Linked DNA regions of Homo sapiens: region 1 is linked to region 2. The links come from fine-mapping of genetic effects on gene expression. A gene starts in region 2. The other region holds a variant in brackets. All regions are shown on one strand. Distances are from middle to middle. Region 1 has its middle 11 kb from the start of VWF. Region 2 holds the start of CD9 (CD9 molecule).

Evidence for each region.
Region 1: its variant is fine-mapped to the expression of CD9 in monocytes after LPS (Quach 2016, PIP 0.93). The same link has a PIP of 0.9 or more in monocytes after Pam3CSK4.

The regions. Positions count from the first base shown.
Region 1 is chr12:6,127,955-6,144,313 of GRCh38, reverse strand. No RefSeq gene overlaps it. Among named protein-coding and RNA genes, the nearest start is that of VWF, 11 kb to the right of the region's middle. RefSeq lists an enhancer at 1,410-1,967. The variant A/CA (reference allele first, on the strand shown) is at 9,507.
Region 2 is chr12:6,192,681-6,209,039 of GRCh38, reverse strand. It overlaps CD9 (CD9 molecule), which reads right to left and starts at 8,640. Exons shown (of 8, transcript NM_001769.4): 1 at 8,475-8,640. The coding sequence starts at 8,540. RefSeq lists enhancers at 6,093-6,704, 6,705-7,317, 8,544-9,155, 9,156-9,768 and a silencer at 14,895-14,944.

The DNA of each region.
Region 1 (16,359 bases), 65 kb after region 2:
TGCAATAATAGGGTTTAACCATTGTTTTTTGTTTTTGTTTGAGACAGAGTCTCACTCAGTCACCCGTTCTGGAGTGTAGTGGCACTATCTTGGCTCACTGCAACCTCCGCCTCCCAGGTTCAAGCAGTTCTCCTTCCTCAGCCTCCCAAGTAGCTGGGATTACAGGTGCACGCCAAAATGCCTAGCTAATTTTTTTTTTTTTGTATTTTTAGTAGAGATGGGGTTTTACCATGTTGGCCAGGCTTGTCTCGAACTCCTGACCTCAAGTGATCCGCCCACCTCGGCCTGCCAAAGTGCTGGGATTACAGGTGTGAGCCACCGGGCCAGCCCGTTTGTTTGCTTTTTGAGACAGGGTCTTACTCTGTTGTCCAGGCTGGAATGCAGTGGTGCTGAGGTAGGAGGCAGGATCTTACTCTGGACCAGATTGAAGATTGGCTGAAACAGGGAAGAGGCGGGGAAAACACCTCTCCATGACATGCCCACCAGTTGGCTGGGCATGGTGGCTCCCGCCTGTAATCGTAGCACTTTGGGAGGTAGAGGTGGGCGGACCACTTGAGGTCAAGAGTTTGAGACCAGCCTGGCCAACATGGTGAAACCCCATCTCTACTAAAAATACAAAAATTAGTAGGGCGTGGTGGTGGGCACCTGTAATCCCAGCTACTCAGGAGGCCGAGGCCAGAGAATCACTTGAACCTGGGAGACAGATGTTGCAGTGAGCTGAGATTGCACCATTGCACTCTAGCCTATGAGACAGAGCAAGACTCCAGCTGGGGGGGGGGGGGGGGGGGAAAGACCTGACAACCAATTCCATGTCAGTTTACCATTGCCATGGCAACACACAGAAGTTACCACCTCTTTTCATGGCAACCACGTGAAAGTTACCACCATTTTTCTAGAAATTTCTGAATAACCCATACTGCGTCTGGAATTGGTGGGTTCTTGGTCTCACTGACTTCAAGAATGAAGCCACAGACCCTCGTAGTTAACAGCTCTTAAAGTGGCACATCTGGAGTCTGTGTCTTCTGACTTTCAGATGTGTTCAGAGTTTCTTCCTTCTGGTGGGTTCATGATCTCCCTGGCTCAGGATTGAAGCTGCAGACCTTTGCGGTGGGCGTTACCACTCTTAAGGCAGTGCATCTGGAGTTGTTCGTTCCTCCCGGTGGGCTCGTGGTTTTGCTGGCCTCAGGAGTGAAGCTGCAGATCTTCACGGTGAGAGTTACAGATCTTAAAAGCAGTGTGCACCCAGAGTGAGCAATAGCAAGATTTATTGCAAAGAGCAAAAGAACGAAGCCTTCACACTGTGGAAGGGGACCGGAGCGGGTTGCCAATGCTGGCTCCGGCAGCCTGCTTTTATTCTCTTATCTGGCCCCACCCACATGCTGCTGATTGGTAGAGCCGAGTGGCCTGTTTTAACAGGGCGCTGATTGGTGCGTTTACAATCCTTGAGCTAGATACAAAGGTTCTCCACGTCCCCATCAGATTAGTTAGATACAGAGTTTCCACACAGAGGTTGTCCAAGGCCCCAGCAGAGCAGCTAGATACAGAGTGTCGATTGGTGCACTCACAAATCTTGAGCTAGACACAGGGTGCTGATTGGTGTGTTTACAATCCCTGAGCTAGATATAAAAACTCTCCACGTCCCCACCAGACTCAGGAGCCCAGCTGGCTTCACCTAGTGGATCCCGCACCTGGGGCTGCAGGTGGAGCTGCCTGCCAGTCCCGCGCTGTGCGCTCTCATTCCTCAGCTCTTGGGTGGTCGATGGGACTGGGCGCCGTGGAGCAGGGGGTGGTGCTCGTCGGGGAGGCTTGGGCCACACGGGAGCCCATGGAGTGGGTGGGAGGCTCAGGCATGGCAGGCTGCAGGTCCCGAGCCCTGCCCCGCGGGAAGGCAGCTAAGGCCCGGCGAGAAATCGAGCGCAGCGCCGGTGGGCCAGCACTGCTGGGGGACCCAGTACACCCTCCACAGCTGCTGGCCCGGGTGCTAAGTCCCTCATTGCCCGGGGCCAGCAGGGCTGGCCGGCTGCTCTGAGTGTGGGGCCCGCCAAGCCCACGCCCACCCGGAACTCCAGCTGACTCGCAAGCGCGGCACGCAGCCCTGCTTCCTGCTCGCGCCTCTCCCTCCACACCTCCCTGCAAGCTGAGGGAGCGGGCTCCAGCCTTGGCCAGCCCAGAAAGTGGCTCCCACAGTGCAGTGGGGGGCTGAAGGGCTCCTCAAATGCCGCCAAAGTGGGAGCCCAGGCAGGGGAGGTGCTGAGAGCAAGCAAGGGCTCTGAGGACTGCCAGCACGCTGTCACCTCTCAATACCTTAACTTGCAAGTAATTGAAAGTGGGTATATGTATGACTGTTGACCTGCCCCTGAGCTGGTGCTCTCAACACATTGCCTAGGGGTTAGCCCTGCTCTGCAGGAGTAGTCATAAAGTTGTCACACTGCTGCCTCCATAAAGCTGTTTTCTTCTACCACCAGCTGGCTCTTGAATTCTTTCCTGAGCAAAGCCAAGAATCTTCCAGGGCTAAGTCCCAATTTGGGAGCTTACTTGCCCTGCATCAGTGCAATCATAGCTCACTGCAGCCTGGAACTTCGGGGCTCAAGCAATCCTCCTGCCTGAGCCTCCTGAATAGCTAAGATGACAGATGTGTGCCACTACACCTGGCTAATTTTTTCTTTTTTTTGTAGACATGAGGTCTCACTTTGTTGCCTAGGCTGATCATTGTTTTTAAAATTTCTATCTTTACTGATTTTTATCTGCCTGACCTATGGATAATTGAGAAAGCCTTTTTGAAGTCAATTGTCAATTTATGTATTTTGAAGCTATTTTGTAAGATGCATATAAATTTGAGTTGCTGTAACTTTCTGCCTCTCAAATTAGAACCCCAGGTCTTGAGATAGTGATTCTGGGGTCAGGAATCCTGCTGTGCTACTACTGGGGCCAGGAATGCCACCAGATGTAATGGTCTGAGTTCTCTGTAGCTCGATAGCAGCAATAATGTGGTGTCATTGTTCCTGAGAACCAGGGAAGATGAGTCTGAAGCTGCACCATTCTTCTGACATTGTAGCGTGGGTGGGTCCTCTCTATTTTGATGATTGTGAAGGAAGTGAGCATGTTATTCTTGCACAAGATGTTTGTCTTTAGAAGAGAGGAAGTAGAGGAGGACAGCTTCCTCTCCGCTGGGGGCTACAGCTTTATGCTGGGAGCTGGTCGTCTGGCCTAAGAAATACTGCTGTGTTTATTTATTTGGCGCATACTGCCAAGAAAATTCTCTTTCCTGCAGAATTTACGTAAGAGAGATGCTACAAATATACAAAGAAAAGACAAAGATGGGTCCTCCTAGAAAACCTTTCCTCCCCTGAGGTTCTTTTGCTTTTGTACTAGTTACCTGGAGAACTTACTCCTCAGACAGGCAGAGGTCAATTTACCCATCCCCCTGCCTCTGAGCAGCCCTGCCCCATGCGCCCCCAGAGGTCACGCACCCTTCCCATTTGTACTTAATGCTGTTTACATCAGCCCAAGTTCTAATGGCTCTCATACTGTGGTCCTCAGGGATCCTTCTTCCTTGAGCCTCACAGCACTAATTGTCCTCTAACTTATTTGGCAAAGCTGCCTTGGGACACCCTCCATGAGGGCAAGGGAGCAGGTTGTGTGGCATGATATCTTGGCCTATATTAGTTTTCTATTGCTGCAGTGACAAATGACCACAAGCTTAGTGGCCTGAAACAACACAAATTTATCTTACAATTCGTAATTGTAAGAAGCTCGAATTGGATCAAAATCAAGGTGTGTTGGAAGAGCTGGATTCCTTCTGTAGGTTCTATGGGAGAACCTGTTCTTCGCCTCTATCCACTTCCAGGGGCACACATTCCTTGCCTCGTGGCCCCGCGTTGCATGACCTCTGCTCGCATCATCACATCTCCTTCCCTGATGCTGACCCTCCTGCTCCTCTTATAAAAACTCTTGTGATTATATCGGCCCAGCAGGATACTCTGGGGTAAGCCAGGATCATCTCCCCATCTCAAGACCCTTAACTTGCTCACATCTGCAAAATCCCTTTTGCCATGTAAGGTAGCATTCAGAGGTTTGAGATGGGATGTAGACATCTTTGGCTGTTCTTCTGCTACCGTAATGTGTTACGTGGTTGGCTGTATCTGCTCTTCTCTTGTCAAACCCATGGTCTCCTCCAGGCCCTCGTCTTCCCTGTCCGGGAAGGTTCCACCAACCACTAATGGATCTCCCTTTCTCCATCTGACCTCTCACAATACATGCCACTGCTGCCAGAGGGCCTCATCTGGTGTCACAGGATGAACATAAACCCCTACACTGGTTGAAGGTCCCTGAGGACTTGCCTCTTATTCCTCTCTTTGGTCTCTTTTCCTGTGAGTCTCCTTTATAGGCTGTAACAACTGGCTTATTCACCTACTTACTGATTTAGCATCTCAGAGCTTGCCTGCTTCTAAGCTTTTACTTCCTTCCTTGCAGCTGATGTGCCTTTGCCCTCATTTTCACCTGGCAAAATCCTACTCAGCAAATGGGTAATTAAACCATTGCAACCATTATAAACCATTGCAATTTTTCAGGGGGGCCATTTGGCCTTATTGTCAAAGGCCTCACTGAAAATGTGGACGGTGGCTGACCCAGTGCTCCACATGTAGGATTTCATCCTGTGGGAGTAATCCTGAGGGTTGTGCATGGATATAGCTTCAAAGATGTTCACTGCAGCATTGTTAATTAAAAAAAAAAAAAAGTAGGCCGGGAGTGGTGGCTCACGCCTGTAATCCCAGCACTTTGGGAGGCAGAGGCGGGCGGATCACGAGGTCAGGAGATTGAGGCCATCCTGGTTAACGCGGTGAAACCCTGTCTCTACTAAAAATACAAAAAATTAGCCGGGTGTAGTGGCGGGTGCCTGTAGTCCCAGCTACTCGGGAGGCTGAGGCAGGAGAATGGCATGAACCCAGGAGGTGGAGCTTGCAGTGAGCCGAGATTGCGCCACTGCACTCCAGCCTGGGTGACAGAGCGAGACTGCATCTCAAAAAAAAAAAAAAAAAAAAAAAAGTAGCACTAACCTAAATAAATATCCCATAATATGGAACTGGTTACATAAATTGTGGAATATCAGTAAGTGAACTATTCCAGCCAAGTGTGTTATACTCTGATAAAACAGACACTTGAGTGTTATTTAGAAATAGTGCCAGAGTGTCATATGAGTTACAGGCGCAGAATACCACATGGGAACGTGACCCCAGTCTGATGTCCCTGCCCCCTTGCAGAGCCATCCTGTGACTTTCACCGTGCAATTTCCCCAACCACAGTGACGAGTGCTATCTTCTGTGCTGATGATTTGGAGAGCAGGCAACAACTTCCTTGGGTATTAAGCAATTTTTTTTATCTGCAGTTTCAGTTCTGTAGCTACATTTTAATATTATATGCTAATTAACCCACATCATTGTTCTACTAGCAGGGAGTTCAACAGACATTTATGGAGCACTTACCATGTGCTATGCTCCAGACAGAGCACTTTGGAAGATACAGAGATGAGTAAGGCAAGGTCTTGTTCTAAGGAGAGCTCAGACTGGAGGAGATAAGACAAACAAAAATGCATGAAAAGGCTGGGAGCGGTGGCTCATGCCCATAATCCTAACACTTTGGGAGGACGAGGCGGGCAGATCACGAGGTCAGGAGATCAAGACCATCCTGGTAACACGGTGAAACCTCGTCTCTACTAAAAATATAAAAACAAAAAATTAGCTGAGTGTGGCGGTGGGCGTCTGTAGTCCCAGCTACTCGGGAGGCTGAGGTGGGAGAATGGCGTGAACCAGGGAGGCAGAGGTTGCAGTGAACCAAGATCGCGCCATTGCACTCCAGCCTGGGCAACAGAGCGAGACTCCGTCTCAAAAAAAAGAAAAATGCATGAAAAGATGAGAGGGCCACAGAAGCACCCAGAGGTGGTTCAAAGGCAGGAAAAGCGGGGGTGAAGGGTGGGAGGAAAGGAGAAAAGGCTTATGGAAGAGTTATAGGTATAGTGGAGAAAACACGGACTTTGTAATCAGGTAGATTCAGATGCTGGCTGCCTTTGGTAGCAGTGTGATCCTAGGCAAGGCCCTTACCCTGTCTGAGCCTCAGCATCCTCAACTATAAAATGAGAGTAACGCTCTCTTTCCCTCAAACGGTTGTTAGAAGGTACAGTGGATTGAATGGTGACCCCCAAAAGACATGTCCACATTCTAACTCCTGGACCCTGTGAATGTGACCTTACTTGGAAAAAGGCTTTTTGCAGATGTAATTAAGGATGTCAAGATAGATCACCCTAGATTACTAGATCCTTAGGCGGGGTGTGGTGGCTCACGCCTGTAATCCCAGCACTTTGGGAGGCCGAAGTGGGCAGATCACTTGAGGCCAGGAGTTTGAGACCAGACTGGCTAACATGGCAAAACCCTGTCTACTAAAAATACCAAAAAAAAAAAAAAAAAAAAAAAAGGCTGGGTGTGGTGGTGGTGCCTGTAATCCCAGCTACTCGGGAGGCTGAGGCAGGAGAATCACTTGAACCTCGGAGGTGAAGGCTGCAGTGAGTCAAGATTGTGCCACTGCAATCCAGCCTGGGTGATAGAGTGAGACTCCACCTTGACAAAAACAAAGAGGCTGGGTGCGGTGGCTCTCGCCTGTAATCCCAGCACTTTGGGAGGCTGAGGCGGGTGGATCACCTGAGGTCAGGAGTTCAAGACCAGTCTGGGCAACATGGTGAAACCCTGTCTCTACTAAAAATACAAAAATCCGCTGGGTGTGTTGGCACGTACCTGTAATCCTGGTTACCTGGAAGGCTGAGGCAAGAGAATCACTTGAGCCAGGTAGGCAGAGGTTGCAGTGAGCTGAGATTGCACCATTGCACTCCAGCCTGGGTGACAGTGAGACTCCGACTCAAACAAACAAAAAAACCAAAAAAAGATTACTAGGTCCTTCCAGATTACTTAGATTCAATGTCAGGTGTTCTTATAAGAAATATACAGTGGGAGACACACAGGGAGATGAGGAGAGAGCCATGTGAAGACAGAGGCTGAGATTAGAGTGATGCTGCCACAAGCCAAGGAAAGTCTGAAGCCACCAGAAGCTGGAAGAGGTGAGGAAGGTCTCTCCCTTACAGCCTTTGTGGACACCTTGATTTCAGACTTCTTCCTTTCAAAACTGTGGGAGAAGACATTTGTGCTGTTCTAAGCCACTCGGTTTGTGGTGATTTGTTACGGCAGCACTGGGACACTCACAGAGGAGGATGAAGTAACACAGTGTTCACAAGCAGCTAGCAGAGTATCTGGTACTTGCAAGGTGTTCACCAAATGACAAATTCTCCCTCTGCAGGAGGGGGACATGGAAGGATGAACAGGAGAGAGGAGGAGTGGGGAGGAGGCAGGACATTTGGATGGTGGAACAGTGTGAGCTGAACACAAGAGGTGTCTGGGAAGCAATGCCTCCGGGGACCAATCAGACATTCTGGGGTGCAGGGTGTGGGGTCAGGGTGGACGTGGGCGTGTGCTCAGCAAGGGTGCAGGAGGAAGGCACGTGTGCTGACTGTTGGATGGGAGGTTGGAGAAGAAGGGCCCACCGAAAGGGAAAGAGGCAGGCTGCTGGGGCTCCTCCTCGCCCTGGGGCCTTCCACCTGGGCTGCTCCTGCCTGGCCTCTAGTGCCTTGGTGCTCCTGGTGGAGCTGAAGCAGTGCTTGAGGCCATGCCAGAGGAAAGTCGCTGGGCTGCTGGTCATTAAAGGAGTCATAATGGGCTTGGGAAGAAGGAAGCAGCAAGTGGGATGGAGTGAAGATTTCAGATCCTTGAGTTTGTTTACTGAGCACCTGGTAACCCCCTGGATTCTTCTGTCAACCTGGCTATGAACATGTAATCAAGGATGGCAAGATAGATCATCCTAGATTACTAGATCCTTAGGTCAGGCATGGTGGCTCACACCTGTAATCCCAGCACTTTGGGAGGCCGAGGTGGGCGGATCACCTGAGATCAGGAGTTTGAGACCAGCTTGACCAACATAGTAAAACCCAGTCTTTATTAAAAAGTACAAAAGTTAGCTGGGTGTGGTGGCACATGCCTGTAATCTCAGCCACCTGGGAGGCTGAGGCAGGAGAATGGCGTGAACCTGGGAGGCGGAGCTTGCAGTGAGCCGAGATCTCGCCACCGCACTCCAGACTGGGTGACAGAGCAAGACTCCATATCAAAAAAAAAAAAAAAAAAAAGAAAAAGAAAAAGAACATGAGATGATTCCTCAAACTCCTGTACATCAAAAAACAAACAACAAAAAAAACCCTCATCAATATATATTAAAGTGAAGAACTGAAAAAAAAAATCCTCATATCAATGTGAGAAAACACTAACATTTTTAATCTTTAAAGAGCTTTTATAGATCAATATAGATAAGCATCTCAGTTAAAAATGAGCTAAAGACATGAACAAGAAATTCACAAAAGAAGAAATACACATCGACAATGTTAGAAAATGTTCTCCCAATAATGAAAGGAATGAGTATTAAAGTAACAATCTTTTTTTTTTTTTAAGACGGAGTCTTGCTCTGTCGCCCAGGCTGGAGTGCAGTGGCGTGATCTCAGCTCTCTGCAAGCTCCGCCTCCCGGGTTCACGCCATTCTCCTGCCTCAGCCTCCCGAGTAGCTGGGACTACAGGCGCCCGCCACCGTGCCCCGCTAATTTTTTTTGTATTTTTAGTAGAGACGGGGTTTCACCGTGGTCTCCATCTTCTGACCTCGTGATCCACCCACCTCAGCCTCCCAAAGTGCTGGGATTACAGGCGTGAACCATGGCGCCTGGCCTAAAGTAATAATCTTATAATAGTTTTTGCCACTTACATTACCAAATCTGTAATAAAAAATAATAATGCTATAGAAGGGTAAATTGGTAAAGTTCTTGGGAGGATATATAAAAGGCTTAATTTTTGTGCCCTTTGACCGAGCAATTTCTTTTACTTCTAGGAATTTGTTTCAAGGAAATGGGCTGTGTGTGTGAGGATTTATGTACAGGATGTTGGTCACCCTGCTATTTGTAAGGCAAAGCCAATATTTCCACGTCACTTGGCTTCAGAGCTTTATCTTTTAAGTGAAACTTTCAACCACAGAGAAAACTAAAGAGGATAATGCAGAAACACCCATGTTCTAGCCAGCTTGCTGCATGTTAACATTTTGCCATATTTGCTTTATACTTTTGAAATAATTAACAAAATATTTACAGAGAGGTATGGCCCCCTAGGTCCCACTCTCTGGATTCCATCTTCTCTTTTCTTCCCTAGAGGTAACTAGTATCCCGAATTTACAGGTTATCACTCCACCTGCATGTTTTACTGTAAGTAAACGTATTTATTTATTCATTTATTTTTTGAGACAGAGTCTCAATCTGTTGCCCAGACTGTTGTGCAATGGCATGATTACGGCTCACTGCAGCCTCGAACTCCCGGGCTCAAGTGATCCTCTTACCTTAGCCTCCCGAGTAGCTGGGACTAGAGATGCACACCATC[A/CA]TACCCGGCTAGTTGTTTTTTTTTTTCCCCATAAAAATGAGGTTGCTGTATGTTACCCAGGCTGATCTTGAACTCCTGGCCTCAAGCAATCCTCCTGCCTTGGCTTCCCAAAGTGCTGGGATTACAGGTGTAAGCCACCATGATTAGCCAATTAAACATATTTGTAAGCAATAATATATAGTTTTATTTTACATGGTTTTTACCTTTATGTAAATGGTACGTATCCTCTGATCCTTGCTTTTGTTTTTTGTTCACCATTATTTTGGGGGGTTTTCCATGTTAATACATGTAGCCTAGATTATTTTTAATTGCTATTTGTTATTTCACTGGATGAACATACAATTTATTAATTCTTCTATTGAAGTATATTTAGCCTGGTTGTTTACACATCTCTGACTGCAGACTCTGCTGCAGTAAACATTCTGTGCATGCTGGTTGGTGCACATGCGTGAAAGTTTCTCTAGGGGATACGCCTATGCATGCAGTCACAAGACTGTGGGGAAGAGCATCTTTACATTTTATAGATATATTTCCACACTTTCTCCAAAGTGCTTTACCTGTTGTCCTCAGCAACATATAGGAATTTCAGGAGCCCCTCCTTGCCATTCTGAGAAGTGGGTAACTAATTGTGGTTTTATTTTAGATTTCCCTCATGACCAGCAAAGTTGAACAGGTTTTGGGTTTTTTTTTTTTTTTTAAAGATGGTGATTTGCTCTTGCTCTTGTGCCCAGGCTGGAGTGCAATGCTGTGATGTTGGCTCGCTGTGACCTCTGCCTCGCGAGTTCAAGTGATTCTCCTGCCTCAGCCTCCCGAGTAGCTGAGTCTGTGTCTGGAATTCGTGGGTTCTCGGTCTGGCTGACTTCGAGAATAAAGACGCAGACCCTCGCGGTGTTTGTTACAGTTCTTAATGGCGGCGTGTCCCGAGTTTGTCCCTTCTGATGTTCCAATGTGTTGGGAGTTTTTCCTTTTTGGTGGGTTCGCAGTCTTGCTGACTCAGCAATAAAGCTGCAGACCTTCGCTGTTGAGTGTTGCAGCTCTTAAGACAGCGCATCCAGAGTTCTTCGTTTCTCCTGGTGGGTTCATGTTTTCCGTAGCTTCAGGACTAAAGCTGTATATCTTTGCAGTGAGCGTCACAGCTTATAAAGGCAGTGTGATCCCAAAGAATAACCAGCACTAAAATTTATTACAAAGAACAAAGCACCTAAAAGGTGGAAAAGAATCCAAACGGGTTACCAGGGCTGGAGCTGGCAGCCTGCTTTTATTCTCTTATCTGGCCCCACCTACATCCTGCTGATTGGTCCATTTTACAGAGAGCCGATTGGTCTGTTTTACAGAGAGCTGATTGGTCAGTTTTGACAGGGTGCTGATTGGTGCGTTTACAATCCCTGAGGTAGACACAAAAGTTCTCCATGTCCCCACTAGATTAGCTAGATACAGAGTGTGGATTGGTGTATTTACAAACCCTGAGCTAGATACAGAGTGCTGATTGGTGCTTTTACAAACCTTGAGCTAGATACAGAGTGCTGATTGGTGCATTCATAATCCCTTAGCTAGACATAAAGATTCTCTAAGGCCCCACCAGATTAACTAGATACCGAGTGCCGATTGGTGCATTCACAAACCCTGAGCTAGACACAGGGTGCTTATTGGTGTGTTTACAAACTTTGAGCTAGATACAAAGTGCTGATTGGTGTATTTACAATCCCTTAGCTAGCCATAAAGGTACTCCAAGTCCCCACCAGATCAGCTAGACACAGAGTGCTGATTGGTGCATTCACAAACCTTGAGCTAGACAGAGTGCTGATTGGTGTATTCTCAATCCCTTAGCTAGACAAAAAGGTTTTTCAAGTCCCCACCACACTCAGGAGCCCAGCTGGCTTCACCCAGTGGGTCCCGCACTGGGGCCGCAGGTGGAGCTGCCTGCCAGTCCCGCGCAGTGCGCCGGCACTACTCAGCTCTAGGGCGGTCGATGGGACCTGGCGCCCTGGAGCAGGGGGCGGCGCTCCAGGGAGGCAGCTAAGGCCTGGCGAGAAATCGAGCACAGCACCTGCTGGCCCAGGTGCTAAGCCCCTCACTGCCCGCGGCTGGCCGGCCGCTCCGAGTGGGGGGCCCGCTGAGCCCACGCCCATCCGGAACTCGCGCTGGCCCGCAAGCGCCGCTGCGCAGCCCCGGTTCCCGCCCGCGCCTCTCCCTCCACACCTCCCTGCAAGCTGAGGGAGCCGGCTCCAGCCTTGGCCAGCCCAGAAAGGGGCTTCCACAGCGCAGCAGCGGGCTGAAGGGGGGCTCCTCAAGTGCGGCCAGAGTGGGCGCCAAGGCCAAGGAGGCGCCCAGAGCCAGCGAGGGCTGGGAGGGCTGCCAGCAGGCTGTCACCTCTCAGGACTACAGGTGCGCCACCACGCCTCGTTAATTTTTGTATTTTTACTAGGTGTTTCACCGTGTTGTTCAGGCTGGTCTCGAACTCCTGACCTCCGGTGATCCTGCCGCTTAAGCCTCCCAAAGTGCTGGGATTACCAGGCGTGAGCCATCACGCCCGACCTGGTTTTGGTATGTTTACTGGCCAACTGCGTTTCCTCCTTTTCTGTAGATTGTCTTTCCATATCACTCTCTATTGCCACTGGGTTGTTTGTCCATTTCTTTTTCTATTTTTTTTTTTGATACGGAGTCTTGCTCTGTCGCCCAGGCTGGAGTGCAGTGGCACAATCTGGGCTGACTGCAATCTCCGCCTCCCGGGTTCACACCCTTCTCCTGCCTCAGCCTCCTGAGTAGCTGGGACTACAGGCGCCCACCACCACACCCGGATAATTTTTTATATTTTTAGTAGAGACAGGGTTTCACCGTGTTAGGATGGTCTCAATCTCCTGACCTTGTGATCCGCCCGCCTTGGCCTCCCAAAGTGCTGGGATTACAGGCGTGAGCCACCGTACCTGGCCATTTTTTTTTTAGACGGAGTTTCGGTCTTGTTGCCCAGCCTGGAGTGCAATGGTGGGATCTCGCCTCACCCCAATCTCTGCCTCCCTGTTCAAGCCATTCTCCTGTCTCAGCCTCCTGAGTAGCTGGGATTACAGGCATGCACCACCACGTCCGGCTAATTTTGTATTGTTAGTAGAGACAGGCTTTCTCCATGTTGATCAGGCTGGTCTTGAACTCCTGACCTCAGGTGATCTGCCCTCCTTGGCCTCCCAAAGTGCTGGGATTACAGGCGTGAGCCACCGCGCCCGGCCACATTTGAAATTGTTTTTAACTATTCTTTTTTTTTTTGTTTTTGAGACAAGAGTCTCGCTCTGTCGCCCAGGCTGGAGTGCAGTGGCGCAATCTTGGCTCACTGCAAGCTCCGCCTCCCGGGTTCACGCCATTCTCCTGCCTTAGTCTCCCGAGTAGCTGGAACTACAGGCGTTTTTAACTATTCTTGATATTTTGCTTCCCATATGGAGTTTAGGATCAGCTTGTCTAATTATATGAAAAACCCTGTTGGATTGAAATTGTATTTAATTTATTGATTAATCTGAGGATATTTGGCATCTTTACAATATTGTGACTTAGTAAATATGAACACAGCATGTCTCTTCATTGGGTTTTCTTTTATGTCTTGGGACAAGATTTATGATTTTCTCTGTAATATTGGACAGTTTTTTTTTTGTTTTTGTTTTTTTGTTTTTTTTTTTTTGAGACAGAGTCTTGCTTTGTTGTCCAGGCATGATCTAGGCTCACTGCAACCTCTGCCTCTCTGGTTCAAACGATTCTCCTGCCTCAGTCTCCCCAATAGATGGGATTACAGGCATGCGCCACCACACCTGGCTAATTTTTTGTATTTTTAGTAGAGACGGGGTTTCACCATGTTGGCAAGGCTGGTCACAAACTCCCGACCTCAAGTGATCCGCCCACCTCGGCCTCCCAAAATGCTGGGATTATATGTGTGAGCCACCACGCCCGGCCTATTCTATTTATTCTTAAGTATCTGCAGTAATTGCTACTTTACTAATAGGGCCACTTCAAAGATTGTATTTTATAACTATATGGGAACATAATAGATTTTAAAAAGGAATCTTGCGGCAAACTTCTAAACTCTTAGGTAGATTCTTTTGAATTTTTCTATGTACACATTCATATCTTCAAATAATAACTATTTTGCTTTTTCCTAAGCTCCATACCTCATATTTTCTCTTCTTCTCTTACTTTGCTGGCCTGGGCATCTGATCCAATATTGACTAGCAGTGATGACATTGAACATGCTTGTCGGCCGGGTGCGGTGGCCAACGCCTGTAATCCCAGCACTTTGGAAGGCTGAGGCGGGTGGATCACGAGGTCAGGAGATCGAGACCATCCTGGCTAACACGGTGAAACCCCGTCTCTACTAAAAATACAAAAAAATTAGCCGGGCGTAGTGGCAGGCACCTGTAGTCCCAGCTACTCAGGAGGCTGAGGCAGGAGAATGGCATGAACCTGGGAGACGGAAATTGCAGTGAGCCGAGATCGCACCACTGCACTCCAGCCTGGCTACAGAGCGAGACTCAGTCTCAAAAAAAAAAAAAAAAAAAAAAAAAAAAGAACATGCTTGCATGTTCAAGTAATTATCCTGCGTCACCCTCCCTAGAAGCTGGGACTACAGGCGCGCGCCAGCGGCATGCCCAGCTAATTTTTGTATTTTTAGTAGAGACGGGGTTTCACCATGTTGGCCAGGATGGTCTAAATCTCTTGACCTCGTGATCCACAGGCCTCGGCCTCCCAAAACGCTGGGATTACAGGCGTGAGCCACCGCGCCCGGCCTTGTTCTGGTTTTTAAAGGGAAAGTGGCTTCCATTTTACCATAAGTATGAAATATGCTCTGTGTCTCAGGCCAAGGACCTTCCCTTCTTTTTATAGGTTACTTAAGTGTTTTGTTTACTTGTTTTCCATAACTGGGTGTTGTTGACTTTTACAAAACTGAAAGCTTTTCTGCTTTATAATTTAATCGTTTTTAAAAATAAATTTTAAGCTTATATTATGAAGTGCACATAAATCTATAGATTCCATCTTCCTGGTGCATTGATCTTTGTATCACCTTTTTCTACTCTTTGGTGCTAATGATGACTTTGATCTTAAGGTCCACTGTGTGTGATAGTGGTATAAAACGCTTTTCCTTGGCCATCACTTGCCTCTCCTTTCTTTTCCTTACGGTCTTTGTGTGTTTATATTTTAGGACTGTCTCTTGAACATTGCTGGATTGTGTGCCTTTTTAAAGAAATCCAATTTGATAATCTCTACCTTTTTATTATTGATTATTGATCTGTTTGAATTTTTTGTACTGTTGCATTTACATTTTATACTATTTGTCTTGCTTTTTCCATTTTTCTCCTAGATCAATCTAGTTTTTAAAAATTTCTTGTTTTTTTTCGATAGGTTTGGAAAACATACATTCAATTCTATTCTTTCAGTAGCCTCCCTTAAAATCTTACTATGCAGTATAGCCTTAACTAAGTCTAAAGTGATCATGACCTGTTTCTTCCTTCTGAGCCATGCAAGGACCTTAATACACTTTCACTCCTGTCTTACATGTCATTGCTATCTGGTATTTTGGTTCTAATTTTTAATAACTCTCCAACTTATCATTACCATTGTTATTGTTTTATATAATGACTGCCTGCTCATATTTACCCCCAGATTTACTATTTTATTTATTTACCTTTTCTTGGCATCCTGTTTCTAGGCTGAATTTTCTTCTTCCTGGCAGGGCGAGGTGGCTCACACCTGTAATCCCAGCACTTTGAGAGGCCGAAGCAGGAAGACTGCTTGAGCCCAGGAGCTCTAGGAGTTTGAGACCAGCCTAGGTAACATGGCAAAACCCTGTCTCTACAAAAAAATACAAAAATTAGCCAGGTATGGTGGTACATGCCCATAGTCCCAGCTACTAGGGAGGCTGAGGTGGGAGGATCGCTTGAGCCCAGAAGGTTTAGGCTGCAGTGAGTTGTGACTGTGTCACTGCGCTCCACCCTGGGTGACAGAGACCCTGTCTCAGAAACAATAACAAAAAATGTTTTTTCTCCCTGAAATTCCTTCTTTAGTAGTTTCTTCAGAAAGGACTGTTAATGTTAAGCCCACTCTGTTTTTCCAAAAAAAAAAAAAAAAAAAAAGTCTATGTTTCCTCAACTCTGAACAATAATTTACAGGTAGACCAGATGTTACAGTCCCTCTGCCACGGCCCTCTAACCCCATCTCTCCGTTTCTTCTAGACTACCAGTGTCTGCTCCTCCGTGCCTGAGGGCCAGAAGTGTTGAGGGCTGAATGCCTCCTGAAGCAGCCTTGACAATAACTGACAGGAAGGAGTAAGTGTAGAAACTCTCCTGCTCCCTGACCCAAGAGTGGGAAGATTCAGAGGCATGGATCTTACATTTTCCCAGACTTCCCTCCAGAAGGAAGCTTTCTTGTCCACTTGGTGGCTGGCATAATAAACATCTTTTATTGACTGCTTTCCCTGCCCCGTATCACATTCCCACTTCCCTGCCGATGCTTCCTGTCCTCCCAAATCAATTATCTACACTAAAATACTCAGGGTCTGCTTCTGGGACTTCAAACTAAGACACTGCATATAGAATTCTCCACAAATGGACTTCTTCTCTCAGCACTTCTCTTTGGATCTTCTAATTCTATCATGTTTCTTAATTCTGCCTCCATTTTTTTTTTTTTTTTTTTTTTTTTTTGAGATGGAGTCTCACTCTGTCACCCAGGCCAAAGTGCAGTGGTGTGATCTTGGCTCACTGCAACCTCTGCCTCCTGGGTTCAAGCAATCCTCCTGCCCCAGCCTCTTGAATAGCTGGAATTACAGGCATGCACCACCATGCAAGGCTAATAGTTGTATTTTTAGTAGAGATGGGATTTC
Region 2 (16,359 bases):
CCAAGATTGCGCCACTGCACTCCAGCCTGGGTGACAGAGCGAGACTCTGTCTCAAAACAAACAACAAAAAAAGCAATGATGAGTTCACAAATAGTATGATTTTGCTGATCATTTCATTTAGAGTTTTAATAAATCAGTACACTGTATTATCATACTACATTCAATCAACTTAGGTTTAAAAGACATTAAACTACACACCTGTAATCCCAGCACTTTGGGAGGCTGAGGCGGGTGGATCACCTGAGGTCAGGAGTTCAAGACCGGCCTGATCAACATGGAGAAACCCCGTCTCTACTAAAAATTAGCCGGGCATGGTGGCACACCCCTGTAATCCCAACTACTCAGGAGGCTGAGGCAGGAGAATGGCTTGAACTCAGGAGGCGGAGGTTGCGGTGAGCTGCGATCGCACCATTACACTCCAGCCTGGGCAACAAGAGTGAAACTCCACCTCAAAAAAAAAAGAACAAAAACAAACAAACAAACAAAAAAAACTAAAATCCTTGAATAGGTTTTGAATTAATAAATTCATAATTAATAAAACTGCCTGATTAACTTTATGGTATTTTTAGCCTCAGTCGAGGTTCTTCTCCTATGACCCATGTATTGTGTTGTTTCTGAACTTGGAGACTAACACACAGCTTAGACTGGGAGTGTCAGCAAGGGACTGGCACCTGAAGCTGTGAAGCTCAGTTCCGAGGAGAGGGCTTGGCAGGAGCCACCAGCTGCTTAGCCTGCTCAGAGGTGTCACTGGAAACTTGGATGTGCATTGGGTAAGCTGTGAAGGGTTACTTTTCTTTTCTTTTTTTTTTTTTTTTGAGATGGAGTTTCACTCTTGTCGCCCAGGCTGGAGTGCAATGGCACGATTTCAGCTCACTGCAACCGCCGCCTCCCAGGTTCAAGCAATTCTCCTGCCTCAGCCTCCCAAGTAGCTGGGATTACAGGCACCTGCCACCATGACTGGCTAATTTTGCATTTTTAGTAGAGAGGGGGTTTTTCCATGTTGGCCAGGCTGGTCTCAAACTCCCAACCTCAGGTGATCCGCCTGTCTCGGCCTCCCAAAATGCTGGGATTATAGGCGTGAGCCACCGCGCCTGGCCTGAAGGGTTACTTTTCTAGCAGAGCTCATAAGAGCCACTATTTCTTCCCTCAGGCACAATGCCTGGCTTAAGGATTGAAGAGGAAGGGCTCTTAAGACCCGGGTTTCTGATTTTTCTCCAAGTCAGTAGTCCCCAAACTTCTCTCTACCGGGACCTCCTCTGGAATCACATTAATCCGGGCCCCTCTCCAAGTCAGGCTGCTTTGCCTTTCCCAGTTACTCAACCAGGCTGCTTCTCAACTCCTTGGGAGTGCAGCTCCCCAAATGATCCCTCCTGAGACATTCCTCCTTTCTGCAAGTCCTCAGAGGACGAGACTTTCCGTCTGCATTTGGAGGGAAGGAGAAGAGAGACAGACCTCCTTTCTTCCTGAACAAAGATGAAGCACCAAGCTCTGGGAAAAGCTAAGCCAAGAGGCCCAACCTGGCTGGAAGATCATACAGTTGCATTTTTCGTGTGTACTAGAAATACAGAGCACTCATTAAATTAACCGAGTGAAAACCACTCCTTAGGCAATGATTAAGCTGAGAGTCAGAGGGATGGGTGGGAGGCCAGCTGTCCCATCTGAGCTGCACTTGATCACTAGGGAATTTATCATTTCTAATGCCTTTCACAAAGTCCCCTGTGATGCCCCCATTGCAGCCCCCGGGGAACGGTGAGGCAACCTGCTTCTTATGGCAGAAATATGGGACTCAGGACAGAGCAGGGGTTGTCTGGAAACTGAGGGAGAAAAACCAATATGGGGCATTTATAGCGTGAGCTCAGGCTGGGCGTGGTGGCTCACATTTATGATCCCAGTGCTTTGGGAGTCCGAGGCTGAAGGACTGCTTGAGCCCAGGAGTTCAAGACCAGCTTGGGCGACATAGAGAGACCCTCTCTGTACAAAAAAATTAGCCGGGTATAGTGGTGTGTGCTGTAGTCCCAGCTACTTGAGAGGCTGAGGCCAGGATTGTGTAAAGCCCAGGAGTTTGAGGCTGCAGTGAACTATGATGGTGCCACTATACTGCAGCCTGGGCAATGGAGAAAAAGGCAAAAAAAAAAAAAATGTCTATGGGCCTCCAGAAACAGACATAACATTTTTCTGGAGGCAGGTCGTACTGATTCCAAGGAATTCCCTAAAAAGGAATTTCCCTAAAAACGTTAAGATGTATTAGTCTAGGATGACAGGATATAGCACTTAAAACTATCCACAACTAAGTATTTTTGGAGAGGCGGGGGGAGGAAATTACCAGATAGATACAATTATTATAAAATTATCACAAAAAAATTATCTCATCTGGGGACAGGATGTTGCTTTCTACGGCTGCATGCCATCACTTGATGGAAAATGAGAATGTCCCTGGACCAGCATGACTTTTTCCATGGAATAAAACAGGCAAGTAATCTGTAGTCAGGCCTTAAAACATAAATTTAAGAAATGTAGGCCAGGCGCGGTGGCTCATTCCTGTAATCCTAGCATTTTGGGAGGCCAAGGTTGGCAGATCGCTTGAGCCTAGGAGTTTGAGACCAGCCTGGGCAACATAGTGAGATCCTGTCTCTACAAAAAAATTAAAAGGTTAGCTGGGTGTAGTGGCACATGCCTGTAGTCCCAGTTACTCAGGAGGCTGAGGTGTGAGGATCGCCTGAGCTGGGAGGTTGAGTTTGCAGTGAGCCATGAGCCATGATTGTTAACACTGCACTCCAGCCTGGGTGACAGAGTGAGCACCGTCTCCAAAAAAAAAAAGAAAGAAAGAAATGTATAAAGACTAGCCCCCGCCCCCTATTCCCCTGCATTTTTTTTTTTTTTTGTCTTCTGAATTTCCTTCCCAGTTGCAAAGGATTTTTCCTGCTCTCTGAGGCCATGGGTCTGACAGGCTCTCACCCAGATTTTCAGACTCTTAACAAGGAAGTCGTTGCTCTTCTGTGTGTATGGGGTAAAGCCTGTTTCTGCAAGGCTTTGGTTGAAAAGACCTGTGGTGGATCCAAATAAAGTCCCGCTGACCCCAACCTGGGGGAGGGAGGAACACAAAACATAAACATGCAGCTTCCTCAAACTTCTCCACTCTCCTTTCCCCAGCTCCACACAGGTCTGTCTAGAACATGCTGCCAGTAGGACCACAGAAGCTGTGGTTGGGGTGACCTCAGGCCCCCTACCCTCACAGCCAGGCTCACCCAGGTGAGAACCACACCCAGGCAAGAACCATCAAGGTTTGTGTTCTTTAGAAGAAAAGGCGCCTTTGTCAATCCAAGGTATTATTAAGTTCCAAACCCAACCCTGCAACCAAGTCCAAAAGCTATGCCTCCTTATAAAATTGAACAGAACAGGAAAACAAAAACAAACAAACAAACAAAAGCAGACAAAACAAACACAGGATCTATGTGTGTAAGGGGGAGATTCTCATCCAACACTGCTCCTGGAGGAAGGGGTGAGAAGGCTGATTTGTGAGCCCAGCAGCCGCAGAGGGCTCATCTAGAGTCAGTACTGGCAGGGCCCCAGAGAGGGCTGCATATCAAAGCACTCCCAAATTCGGGCTGGAGCCAGCAGCTGCTTCCTCTGAGCACAATAGAGCAGGGTCTGGAATCGTGCTGTGGGCCACGTTGAAAAGAAGGGGGTAGAGAACGTGAGTGTGAGCGTGTGCAGAGGAATCCTCACCACCATCAAAAGATTGGGTCTTTGTTGTTCACACCCACTGTGGGTGTAGGGGAGAGACCATCAAAATCCTGGGCAAAGGAAGCAGATACCTGGCCTCAGCTCACCTCTCCCCAAGCCTGCCAGCTTCAGTGCACGTGTAGCCAGCTTCACCCCAGCGCAGGCTGTCTGGGCACTGGAGGTGGGAGCCATTTTATGCAACAGTCCCAGCAACTTGCTTCTGGGGGAAAAGGCAGACCATGGGGAGGGGCTTTTGCCACTGCCACCCAACTTGTCCATGCCCTGCCCAGATCCGGAATCCTGATCCTTAGGGTTTCTCTGACAGGCAATTTTATTTTCAGAAGCGGGGCCTTCCCGCAGCCAAATGAGCAGTAGCAACCCATGAAATGGAGTCAGGGTTTTGATGCACAGGACAAAGTTGGCACTGATACAGGAAGGGGCAGGGAGGCCAGTGTGTGGATTGGGAGGGTCCTCCTGGCCACATCTGCGGTTTAGACTTCCACACTTCTTAGAGAACTGCTCTCACCCTCCCCAGGGCCTCATTCTACTCTCCACTAGTGAATAACAATAGCTACTGTTGGAAGATATGTCTGGTGCAATCTACTATGCTAAGTGCACTACACATACTCCCCATTTAACTCTCACAGCACCATGTGGGGTGGTCACCAGCCCCATCTGGTGATGAGACATGGAACCCAGGACTGGTGCTTTGATCACTAGGCCAAGTACTAAGGTATACGGGCAATGAACACCCCTGAGAGAGACCCCACCCAGGGTGAGGAGAGGGAACTGAGAAGCAACAGCAAAGAAAAGCACCAGCTGGGCTCTTGCTCCAGAGGTAAAGGCCAAGAAAAGCTAAGTTCTGAGGACTCAAGCCTTGGTATCCATCTCCCATTTCCAATTCAGGGCTTGTATTTTGTTTATTATATTATTATTTATAGATTTAGGGGACACGAATGTAGTTTTGTTACACATGGTGAAGTCTGGGCTTTTAATGTGACCATCACCAACATAGTATACATCGTACCCAATATTGGTTCCTATTTTGGGTTGTGTAGGAGAGTTCTATTGTTGTATGTGGTATGTGTAGGGGTGTTGGGTTCATAGACTGAGCTTGAAAGGACCTTTTGAGACCATTTGTTCCAAGCTATTGTTTTACAGATGAGGAAACTGAGGCTTAGAGCACAGAAGTGACCAACCCAAGGTTTCAAAGTGAGTTGAGGACAGAGCTGGGCTCACATCCAGGTCTCTGAATTCCCAGTGTAGGTCTCTGTGTTTCGCACCAGCCTCCCCTAGGTCTAGGGGATATGGTTTCTTGGGAAAGAGACCTCCCAGCCCCACACTGCTGTTTCCATCAGTGAGCGAGGCATGAGAGACAGTAAGCAAAGGGGCTGAGGGAGGTGGGGAGGGGATTGGGCTCTGTCAGTATAGCCAAACCTTTCCCTCTTTTGCCCTAAGGAGTTCCTCCCCTTCTCTGACCAGAAAGAGGGCAGACATGCATGTGTCAGACTGGACTGGCCCTAACCCTGGTTCCCCATTTCAGCTGGAGAAATACTTGTGTGTCTACCACATGGACATCAGCAAGATGTTTTCCCTCTCAACTGTTTTTTGGGGGGTGGGCAGGCGGGCAGGGAGGTCTGAAGGAAATGTAGAAACAATCAAAATAGAGCTAGGAGGGCCGGTTCTGGAGGTGGTGGAAGAACAGACTGATTTGCTGGTTTGGCTGTGGCCATCAGGGAGTGACCCACAGGGATGAGATCAGGCCAGGGAAGAGGCACAGCCCCCCAATAACCATCCTACTCCACTGAGGTTGGCCTCTCTCTGGATGCCTGTTGGACACCCCCTCTCAGCAGCCTCTGTGCAAAGTGCTGCTGGGCACTGGCCTCACAATTCCTGCTTTTCAAGGCCCACATCAGGTTCCGAATGCCAAGTTTATAAATGTCTGGTCTCAAGAGAGAAACGGACGTGGTGACAACATAATCACCCAAGCAGTTCCCTTAGGTTACACCTTTCCTTAAGGGAGTCTTGGGAGCTTCTTCCCACCCTTCTCCCATTCCCACTCAGCAGCCAAAACCAGTTGGGTAAAGTAACCTAGTTCTGAGACCACCCTGCCGCATCACCTTGGATAAGTCACCTAACCTCTCTGGGAAATGGTTTCCTGATCATCAGTACAGTGGGGACAATGCTTCCTGCTCTTGGCTACATCATGGGACTAGAACAAGAAAGGCTCTAAAGACTAACACTCTGCACAAGTGGACCGACCACAGTCTTCCTTTTCATTACATCATCTCCTAGGGATGAGGGCTTCATCTCCACAGGGACCCAGATACAGGACAAATGAACAGTAATTCAGGAAAACATAGCTACTGCCCATCTTCCTGCCTCTGATGAAGATGGAAGAGGACAGAAGTAAAGTAGGGGCCCCAGGAATTGTAATACTGGCTCTGTCTCTGCGATCCTGGGTAAATCACCCCATCTCTCTTCCTCTGCTGCCTCACTATGAATAAGAGAGCTGGACTGCATGATCTTCAAAAGTCATTCCAAACATTTCCAGTGTGAGTGATTTCTGTTTCAGACTACATAGGTCATCAGCTGCACCTAGGCTGGGGCCAGGCATAGGGGGTTCTGAATACGAGTGGGGTGGCAGGCTGAGGACAGTACGGACAGATTGCAGGCCAGCAGGCCACAGACAGAGTAGATACCAGTGGCCCTGTGAGCCTCGCATCAGCTTCCTGCATATGCCATGGGGCAGATGGGGGTAGGGAGGCACACTGTGGCAGTCTGTGTTTCCCTGCAGTCCCAAACCTGGATGCAGTCTAGGCAGACAGCTGAGGACTAACCAACACACCAGCCGGGAGAGACTGTACCTGGGAGGGGAGAGGAAAACTCCCAAAGTTCAAGGGTGGGTGAGGCCAGCTGCCTTCCCGCATACTTTTCTGCTGCCAGGGATTGGTGAAAGAAAGAAGCTAAGCGTGGCAGCTGGGTGGTTGCTGGGGTGGGTGGCAACACAGGAGGAGGGGTGCCCACGGCCAGCAGGGTCTTTTTAAAGCAAGTCAAGGGTTGGGAAGGAGCACACCTATATGCCGTCCTCACTGGGGTGTGTGTTATGGTGACTGATGCACTGGGGGAAGTCAGTCTCTGCAAATTGGAAAAACTGTTCAACCACCCCTTCAGCTCTGGGGAGGAGTGAATCTTAGAAGATTTCCCTAAGGAGGCTTGTGGGGACCTCAGTGACCAGCTCCAGGGGGAATAAGTGCATTTGTTTCTTTTCTACTTTTTTTGAGACAGGGCTCACTAGGTCACCCAGGCTAAGTGCAGTGGTGCAATCATGACTCACCGCAGCCTTGACCTCCCAGGCTCATGCCATCCTCTCATCTCAGCCTCCTGAGTAGCTGCGATCACAGGTGCATGCCAACACGCCCAGCTAATTTTTTATTTTTTTGTGGAGATGGGGGTCTCACTATGTTACCCAGGCTGGTCTTGAACCTGGATGAAAGCGATCCTCCTGCCTCAGCCTCCCAAAGTGCTGGGATTACAGGCATGAGCCACTGTGCCTGGCCAAGTGCACTTTTTTGTTACAAGACTCTGGTGGCATGCACCTGTTTCTACATCCATCTATCTTGAGAGTGGCATAGAGACTCTCTTCCTGCCTGCAGAGCGGCAAGTATTGTCATGTGTGTGCAGGGAATGTGGCTATAGAAACAAGGACACAAGGGTTTCCTATTCCTTGCTTCTGTCGCCTCTCAGCCTTCCCATTTGTAGAGGCTGAGTGGCCTGCAGCAGGTGTCTCTGGAGCTCCTGGCCCCGCTGGCCTCTCCAGATGAACGTCCGCTCTGCGCCCTGCCTGGCCTTGGGTGGGCCGCCTGGGCTGGCGGGGAGGGGAGAGGGCAAGGCCAAGGCTCTCCTGGGCGGGCAGCTGGCTGGCACCTGATCTCTCCCGGAAATGCACACACAGGACTCATCCCACTAGAGGCGCAGATAGGTATCTGCCCCCTCCTCTCCCGAACTCTGAGTTCTCTCCAGTGAAGATACTTATCGTCCTTGAAAGAAATCAAGACAAGCTAGTCTTTCAGGGAGCTACCAGGGAGTTCGGCGCTCTCACGGTGGCTCAGAATCAAAGTCTGAGGGAACGGGGGCCTGCGAGGTTCCTCCTCAAGGGTGGAGGGGCCCCCGACTCTCAGGGACTGGGTCCCGGGGCCGGACCCGCGGCCGAGGCACCCCTGCCGCTCCTGCGTAAAAGTGAGAGCCGCTCTTGGCTGAGCTCTCGCCGTGCCCGCACCCTCCCTTCCTGGCGCCCCCTACTACCTGGGAGACCCCACCCGGTCACAAGCCATACTGCTCACCACAGTCCTCCTTGGCCTTGGCCCAAAGAGGGGTGCTCCGCTTCTCCCTGCCTTCCTCTCTGGCACTCGGAGGGACTTGAGCTGGGAGCAGACACACACCCCAGCTCAAATCCTAGGCGAGCTAAAGTGCTCAGGACCCTCCCGCACGCCTCATCTCAAGAGGGCCCGGCTCCCCACGCCGGCTGGGCGGTGATGAGCCCCCACCCGAATGCGCCCGTCGCGGCCGTCCCGCCCGGCTCTGGACCCGGCCTTGGAGCCAGCTGGCAGCCGCAGGGCGCTCTCTCTTCCCGCCCGGTGCCTGCCCGGTGCGGGCAGTGCCAGCTGCCGGCACTCGCGGCCGCGGCCAGTGTCCGGGGCCCGCGAACAGGTGGGCCCTGAGAGGAGCGCGCGGCAGTCGCGCTCACTCACCCAGAAGATGAAGTTAAATCCGAACAGCAGGTATTTGATGCACTTGGTGCCTCCTTTGACCGGCATGGTGAGGGCTAACTTAGCCTGGGCCGAACGGGTGCGGGACTGGGGGGCGCGCGCAGCTGGGACTGGCGGGACCTGGCGCTGGATACAGATGCAGGCGGCTGTAGGCTGGTCTCCGGCTGCACTTTTAAAAAGTGCCACTCCTTAGGGCGCGCGACCCGCTGCGGTGCGCATGTGCCGGGAAAAGCCGCCCCCACTCCCCCCGCCGGCCACGCCTCCCGCCCCACCGGCCCCGCCCGGGCCGCACCCCCCCCGCCCCCCGCCCCCGCCCAGGTCGGCGAGCCCCGGCCCCAGCTGCCCCGCGGAGCCCGACCCTCTCCCTGTTTCCCCGCCTAGTCGCCCTAACCCCCACCCGCCACCCACTCCTTCTTCAAGCCGTCTTGGGGTCTTTGCAGGCAGCCACTCCCTGCCACTTTTACCGCGGACTTACGTGGAGGCCTCGCCCTTCCGGTTCCCCCGCGTTTGGTCTGGGCGCCGGACCGGGCGTTCTGCTTTGGGAGACTCTTCCCCGGGTCGTCAGGGCTAAAGGCCCCTTGGCCAAGGCCTGCTGCCAGAGTGAGGGGCCCTTCTGCTTTGCGAGGATTTAAAGGGAAGCCGCCTGGCTTAATTTCGCCCTCGTCTGTCTCCTTGCAAACCTTCGCTCGCTGACCATACTTTTCATTGGGCACAGCATGTGGGGTAGGAGGAATTAGAAGCGCGCAGTCTGGGTGGGATGACAGATGGGAGGCTTTTGGAAGTAATTAGCAAATACCTATCACCGAATAATAACACAGCTGAGGGCTGGGCAGTCCCCAAGCGCTTCCTGCACTTGAGGTTTAGTTGCCCCAGAGGGAAAAAGGGTCTGTAGACGGCTTCTGTTTTCTCTCTACTCCTCCACCCCACCCTCCCTCCTGCGTCTTTGGACTTGCTCGCTGCTGCCTTGAACTGCTCCAGATGCCGAGCTCGGAGCGCTTCTCCTGAGCTCACAAACTTTCTGTAGCTCTCCAGATTCAAGGACCTAAGTCGAAATTCCTCGTCTTGCCCTCAAGGCCCTGTACAGAGCACTGATCTGACTTCTCCCGGACCCAGAGCCCACCCCACTCGCTGGCCGGCATGCGCCCTGGCTGGCTGGCCCCCCCCCAACGTCACTTGTAGGAATTCTGTGGGTCTTTAAACACTCCTTTCCTGATTCTCTGGAGTGGACGAGGAGAGTCACCTTCTTTTGAAGTCCCCGAATCCCTTTGTATTATTTTCAAAATGAAGTTTCCTTTACTGTCCTTTATGATTACAAAAGCAAGATACAGTCATTACAGAAACAACCGAAATACCAAGAAGTGAAAGGAACAGACCTCAAAATTCTGCTCACCAGAAACAGCCACTGTTAGCACATTGCTGTTATTTGCCTGTTTATTATCAGTAGACTTGTCTCATTGGTTCAAAAACATTTTTCAGTATCTATTAGGGTATTTCATTAGGGGTAGGAGCTGAAAAACATGGATTAGTCCTTGTTTCTGCTCAGGGACCAGTGTGGGAGGAGACAGGCAGCCAGACAATGGTTTGAGGGTGATAGGTGCAGTTACGGGGAGAGGCTTGGGGGCTAAGAGGCTAAGGAGAGGCCTCTGACCCAGACTGGGAGATGATGCTGCAGAACCACAGGGAAAGTTGCCGCCAAGGGAGAATCCTGGGCAAAGGCTGGGGCAGGGGCTGTCCGGGCTCTGGGCTGGAGCCTGGAGTCACGGGGTAGTTTGTGGGAAGGTGAGAAAGAGCCTTGTGCTCCTGGACTTTGCACTCTGAGCATTAGGGGCCACCGAAAGGTTCAAGCAGGGGAATGGTTGGATCTGCTGTGTTTTCAGAGGTTCTCTGCCTGTGTTTTAGGTAGTTGGGTGGGGGAAGGCCGGAGGGGCAGGTAGGAAGCCCCTTGAGGACCAGGACCATTGTTGGCATCTCCAGTCCTTGGCTCAGTGCTTTACGGGATTGCATGGAACATGGAGATGTTGTATTTGGGGAGACGCAATCAGGTAATATGAGGGGAGCAGTGGTAGATGAAAGTTGAGCTGAGGACCAGGTGCAAATCTGCTAGGAGGCTGTGGAGTAGTTCAGGTGAGAGAAGAATGAATGAAGGCGGGGCAATGGGATAAAGCCTAGAGAAGGCAGGGCAAAACCCCATGAGGTGTCAGGCCGGGAAGGGGAGGGAGAGATCAGAGGCAGAGCAGCAGAAGCTAGTAACAAGTAGGGGCACAGGGCACATCCCCACGTCAATCTGAGTCCGAGAGGCTCCCCAGAGCAGGGGACATTGCAGCAGCTGACTTGACTTGGGAAGGTGGAGTCAGTAGTCAATGCGGAGGAGGGAATTCCAAGAGGGAACTGGATATGCAAAGACACAGAAGCGGGCAGCTGGCTGCACTGGGGAAACAACCGATAGTGGTACATGGGGAGGAAGGAGGACAAGGAAGGAGAGGCAGGGCCTAAACTGAGCCTAATGCCAAGAGGACAAGCAGAGGAATTTTGGTGATGCTTGACTTTACACATCCTAACCAGTGTCCAGGATGATTCCAGCACAGGGGAGGAGTGTGAAGCACCCTGGAGGGTGGGAAGGAGGCCGGAAAACAGTCAGTGTTCCATTGTGCCCTTTTGGGCCTGCGTCCATCTATCTTGGGAGACAGGTCTTAGGAAAAGAAAGATTTTATTGCATCTCCCCCTTCTCCCAAGTTAACAAGTACTGGTGGGAGGAGTTCAGTAAATATTTAAGTTTATAATAGAAATTACTTATTAGGGTAAACGTGAGTGTTGACAGAGGAAATCCACAGGGAGGCCTTAGAACCTGCCTGCCACAGAAGCGCTGCAGAAACGCTGCCTGTTGCTCCTATTCCTATTATTGTTTACACTGAAGAAAGAATTGGGGTCAGCCTATATAGTTCAGTGCCACATTCGTATAATCAAGGCATCCTTTTTATGTGATGAGAGCATTGGGCCTGAAGTGAGGGGGTCTGAGTTCTACTCTTGGTTCTGACCCTTTGGTCTATGTTAGGCAGGCAGCCTCCTCTCTGGGCCTCAGTCTCCTCACCTGTACAAGAGTATTGTGAAAGGAAAATAAATCTTAGGACCCCAAAATCAATAAGCCAAAGGAAAAAATCAAGCTGGGAACTGCCACAGGCAAACCTGCCTCCCATTCCTAAATAAGATAGCTACAAAGATTTTTTAAAAAGCTATGCACTTCTCGGCCGGGCGCAGTGGCTCACGCCTGTAATCCCAGCACTTTGGGAGGCCAAGGTGGGCGGATCACGAGGTGAGGAGATCGAGACCATCCTGGCCAACATAGTGAAACCGCATCTCTACTAAAAATACAAAAATTAGCCAGGCATGGTGGCGCATACCTATAATCCCAGCTACTCGGGAGGCAGAGGCAGGAGAATCCCTTGAACCAGGGAGTTGGAGGTTGCAGTGAGCCGAGATCGCGCCACAGCACTCTAGCCTGGCGACAGAGTGAGACTCCGTCTCAAAAAGAAAAAACAAAAAAAGCTATGCACTTCTTGTTGGGCGCTGTGACTCACACCTGTGATCCAAGCACTTTAGGAGGCCGACGCGGGAGGATCATGAGGTCAGGAGATCAAGACCATCCTGGCTAACACGGTGAAACCTCGTCTCTACTAAAAATACAAAAAAATTAGCCGGGCGTGGCGGCGGGCGCCTGTAGTCCCAGCTACTCAGGAGGCTGAGGCAGGAGAATGGCGTGAACCCGGGAGGCAGAGCTTGCAGTGAGCCGAGATCGCGCCACTGCCCTCCAGCCTGGGGGACACAGCCAGACTCCGTCTCAAAAAAAAAAAAAAAAAAAAAAGCAGCTATGCACTTCTTTCACAATTTGCCCATGAGGAAATTTCTGGTGGACCCTATGATATTTGCCCTAAAACAGTTCTGTTGAATTTCACCATGACAATGTAAATTGATAGCATATCTTCACAGGTACAGAAAAAAGGACAGAACTCAAAGTCATCCCTCTGCTCACCTGAGACAAATGCATATCTGATTGCTTCCTCCAATGTAAAAATGAAGATTCGCTGTGCTAGACAAGGCATAAGTGACTTATTTCTCTACCCTCCTCTGCCATGTAAATTGTGCATTCAGTGAGAGGATGATCAGTGACTCAAAAGAATGCAACCGTTTGTTTCTTACCTACCCACACCTTAAAAAAACTTTCTTCCTCTTTCCCCACCAGCCGCCTTTTAAATATTGAAGCCCTCAAAATCATCTTTGCAGAAGGCACAGATCTGCCTCCTGGGCGCCCATCTGTAACCTTGGCAAAATAAACTTTCTAAATTGATTGAGACCTGTCTCAGATACTTTTTGGTTCACAGCATTTTGGATCAGGAGGTGTCTTTCATTCCTCCTGACATTCTGTGTCACAATAAACCCCTGGGCCAAAGTGCATTTGTTACAGACAGTTAGTGCTACAGGCAACCAGGAAGGTGAGCGATGGAAAAATTATGTTTTGCCTTAACCGGAAGAGGAAAATATGGGTAAGCCCCTGAGTCAGAAATCACATGGAAGCAGCCAGGCCTTCCAGGCTTTGTGGTGCTGGAGTGGGAAAGCTTTTCCTCCCTTCCCTCAAGGCGTCCTGTCTCTGGGAAAGAAACCCCAGCTCAGGCTCAGGGTCCACTTTGGCTCTTGTGCCCCCCCTGGTGGTAAGATTTGAACACGCAGAGGCCAGGTGACCTAATGAGCCGTCACACCCATGCCCCAGGTCCCTCCAGCTGTGGGCAATGGCTTTGTAAGGCAACAGGTAGGACCCTCGCTCTCACAGGCCACCAAGGCCCTTCCAGCCACCACACCAGTGGCCATCTTGATTCACCTCCTTCACTTCTAGAAGCTTCTCTCCTGTTCCTCTTTCTAAGCTCAAATACACCACCTTATGAAGCCTTCCTGGAGCACTCCAGTCTTTTTCTCCGTGGATTACCTTGAGTCTCGCATGTGTGATTCTCTGGTCATCATCATCTTCCTTTATGTGTCCACTTCTTGGTAGTGAGCTCCTCGAGGGTGCACTTGCATTTGATTAATTTCTGTGCTCTCCCTAGCTCCCGGTCCCTTCCTGGCCCAGAGCAGGCCCTCTGCAAACATCTGCAGAATGACGGCTGGGCGTGGGGCTTTCTCAGGCCCCTGCCCTTCTCTCTCAGACCTCTCCTGGAGCACTCATCCCCTTTTGTGCCTTCCACCATTTTCTCTGTTTAACTCATCTCTCTGTAAATGCAAGTCCTGATATCCAAGAGCCTGCAGATTTTTTTTTTTTGAGACCAAGTCTCGCTCTGTTGCCCAGGCTGGAGTGCAGTGGCTCAATCTCGGCTCACTACAACCTCCATCCCTGGGCTCAAGAGACTCTCTTGCCTCAGCCTCCCAAGCAGATTGAATTACAGGTGTGCGCTGCCATGCCCGGCTAATAATTTTTTTTTTTTTAGACGGAGTCTCGCTTTGTCACCCAGGCTGGAGTGCAGTGGCACGATCTTGGCTCACTGCAACCTCTGCCTCCCGGGTTCAAGTGATTCTTCTGCCTCAGCCTCCCAAGTAGCTGGGACTACAGGCGCACACCACCATGCCCAGCTAATTTTTGTATTTTTAGTAGAGACGGGGTTTCACCATATTGGCCAGGCTGGTCTTGAACTCCTGAATTCGTTATCTACCCACCTCAGCCTCCCAAAGTGCTGGGATTACAGGCGTAAGCCACCGTGTTTTTTATATTTTTTATATTTTTTATATTTTTAGTAGAGATGGGGTTTCCTCCTGTTGGTCAGGCTGGTCTTGAACTCCTGGCCCCAGGTGATCCGCCCACCTCAGCCTCCCAAAGTGCTGGGATTACAGGCGTGCGCCACCGTGCCTGGCCCGTTTCCACTTCTAACGGCCCTCCAAATAGGCCCACGTTCCAATCCCCAAAACTGTGAATGTGTTACTTTCCATGGCATAGCCTGGACCATCCCAGTGGGCCCAGTGGAATCCAAAGGGTTCTTATAAGAGACAGGTGGAAGTGTCAAAGCCAGGGAAGGAGATGTGACGACAGAAGCAGAGGTCGCAGTGATGCACAGCTGTGTGTTGGGGAACAAGGACAGCCTCTAGAAGCTGGAGAAGGCGAAGAAACGAATTCTCCCCTGCAGCTGCCAGAGGGATCCAACACAGCCCTGCCCACCCATTTTAGATTTCAGACCTCTAGAATTGTGAAATAGTAAATATGTGTTACTTTAAGCCACTAAATTTGTGGTTGTTACCGAAGCAATAGGAAATATAGTAATCTCAATGTAAACATCAAGATCAGAATTCATAATCTCCAAGGGCTTTCTAGGCTCGCAGCTGACTTTCTCCTCAGCCCTCCCTGTCTCTAATCAGTCAGCACCAACACCTCCCATCACCTGGGGCTCCTCCTTCCCCCAGCCTCACAGCTGCTTAGTGAATGTGATTCCTGTTTCTTAGCTGTTCTTACGTCATTGCTGGGAGGCACCAGGGCTAAGGCGGGTTGTAGTGATTGAGTGGCAGAGCACAGATCAGACCTCAGAGCTTCTGGTTTCAGTCCAGGGTTGGATCCTGATCTTTTGTTCCCCCTGATGCCCTGCCATCCGCAAGGGGGCTGCATCCTGGAAGCTCATCTGCAGCCCAAACGGCTGTTCTACCCTTGCCCTGCCTCGCTGCTGTTCACCTGCCCAGGATGGACACAACATTGGACCCAGAGAGTCTTGCTGCGTGCGTCCTTGGGGGTGGGCTGCCCTCCTCTCACCCATCACTTCTTTTCCTTGCATTAAGCACACACACACTCAACCTGGAAACTGCCTATGTCCAGTGTGGATTTTATGAAGGTTTCACGGATAGGTGGATGAGGGGTTCCCTCTCATATGCCAGAGAGAACCATTCTAAGAATCCCTCTGGATAGCTCTTCTCAAACGTCCAATCTGTGGCAGCCACCCCTATCATCTGCCCCCCAGCCCAGCCTCAGCCAGCCCCCTGCCCTGTGGATGTCCTCTGCATATGTCTGTGTGGAGCAATTTAGCTCTAAACTTGGCATTTTCCGTTTGTGTCCCCACCTCCCCTCACCCTGCTCAGCAAAACAAATCATGGCTCTCAGGGTCTGTCCTCCTTAGTATATGGGGGTTGGGGGCAGGCGGGGAGCAATTCTAAACAAGCAATATTTAATATCATCCTTTCATCAGACTCCTGAAGCTCAGCTTTACTCTTTCCTGCTCAAAGATCTCCCAACTCCCCTTACCCCTGTTCTACTTCCAAACAATGCTCCCATAGCATTTACCTTCTCACAGAGTGGAATGTTTCCTTGGTATGTGCATTGCTATTTACCTGTCTCCTCCAGCTAGAATGCAAAATCCGCATGGCTGTTCTGTTCTCTATGTATCCCAAGGGCTTTGAACAGTGCCTGACATACAGTAGGTGCACAATATTTATTGAATGTATGGAAAGCCGATGTCTCAATTGTAAGATCATCATACAGGCCCTCTGCTCTCTCGCCTTAACCTCTGTTTGCAAATCTGTTCACTCTTTTGGAATACCACATGCATCCCCAGCTCTATGCCTGGGTCCCCACCTCTTCTTTCCGAAGCCCAAGCTCTTGGCACTTCCTCCTTTCTGCCCTTCAAGCAGCCTGCACCATCTCTGAGGCCAGCCCAGCCCCTGCCTTCCCCAGCACCCTCAGTCATCTTAGTCTGCTCTGATCCTCTTTCTCAGGACACTCCTGTAGCAACTTCTTTCTGAATCATCCACTAGACTCTTACAAGATTTGTCCTGGGTGATAATTTCAGGTTTCATGCATCTGTTTAAAAGAGTTGGCTGGGCGGCCGGGCGCGGTGGCTCACGCCTATCA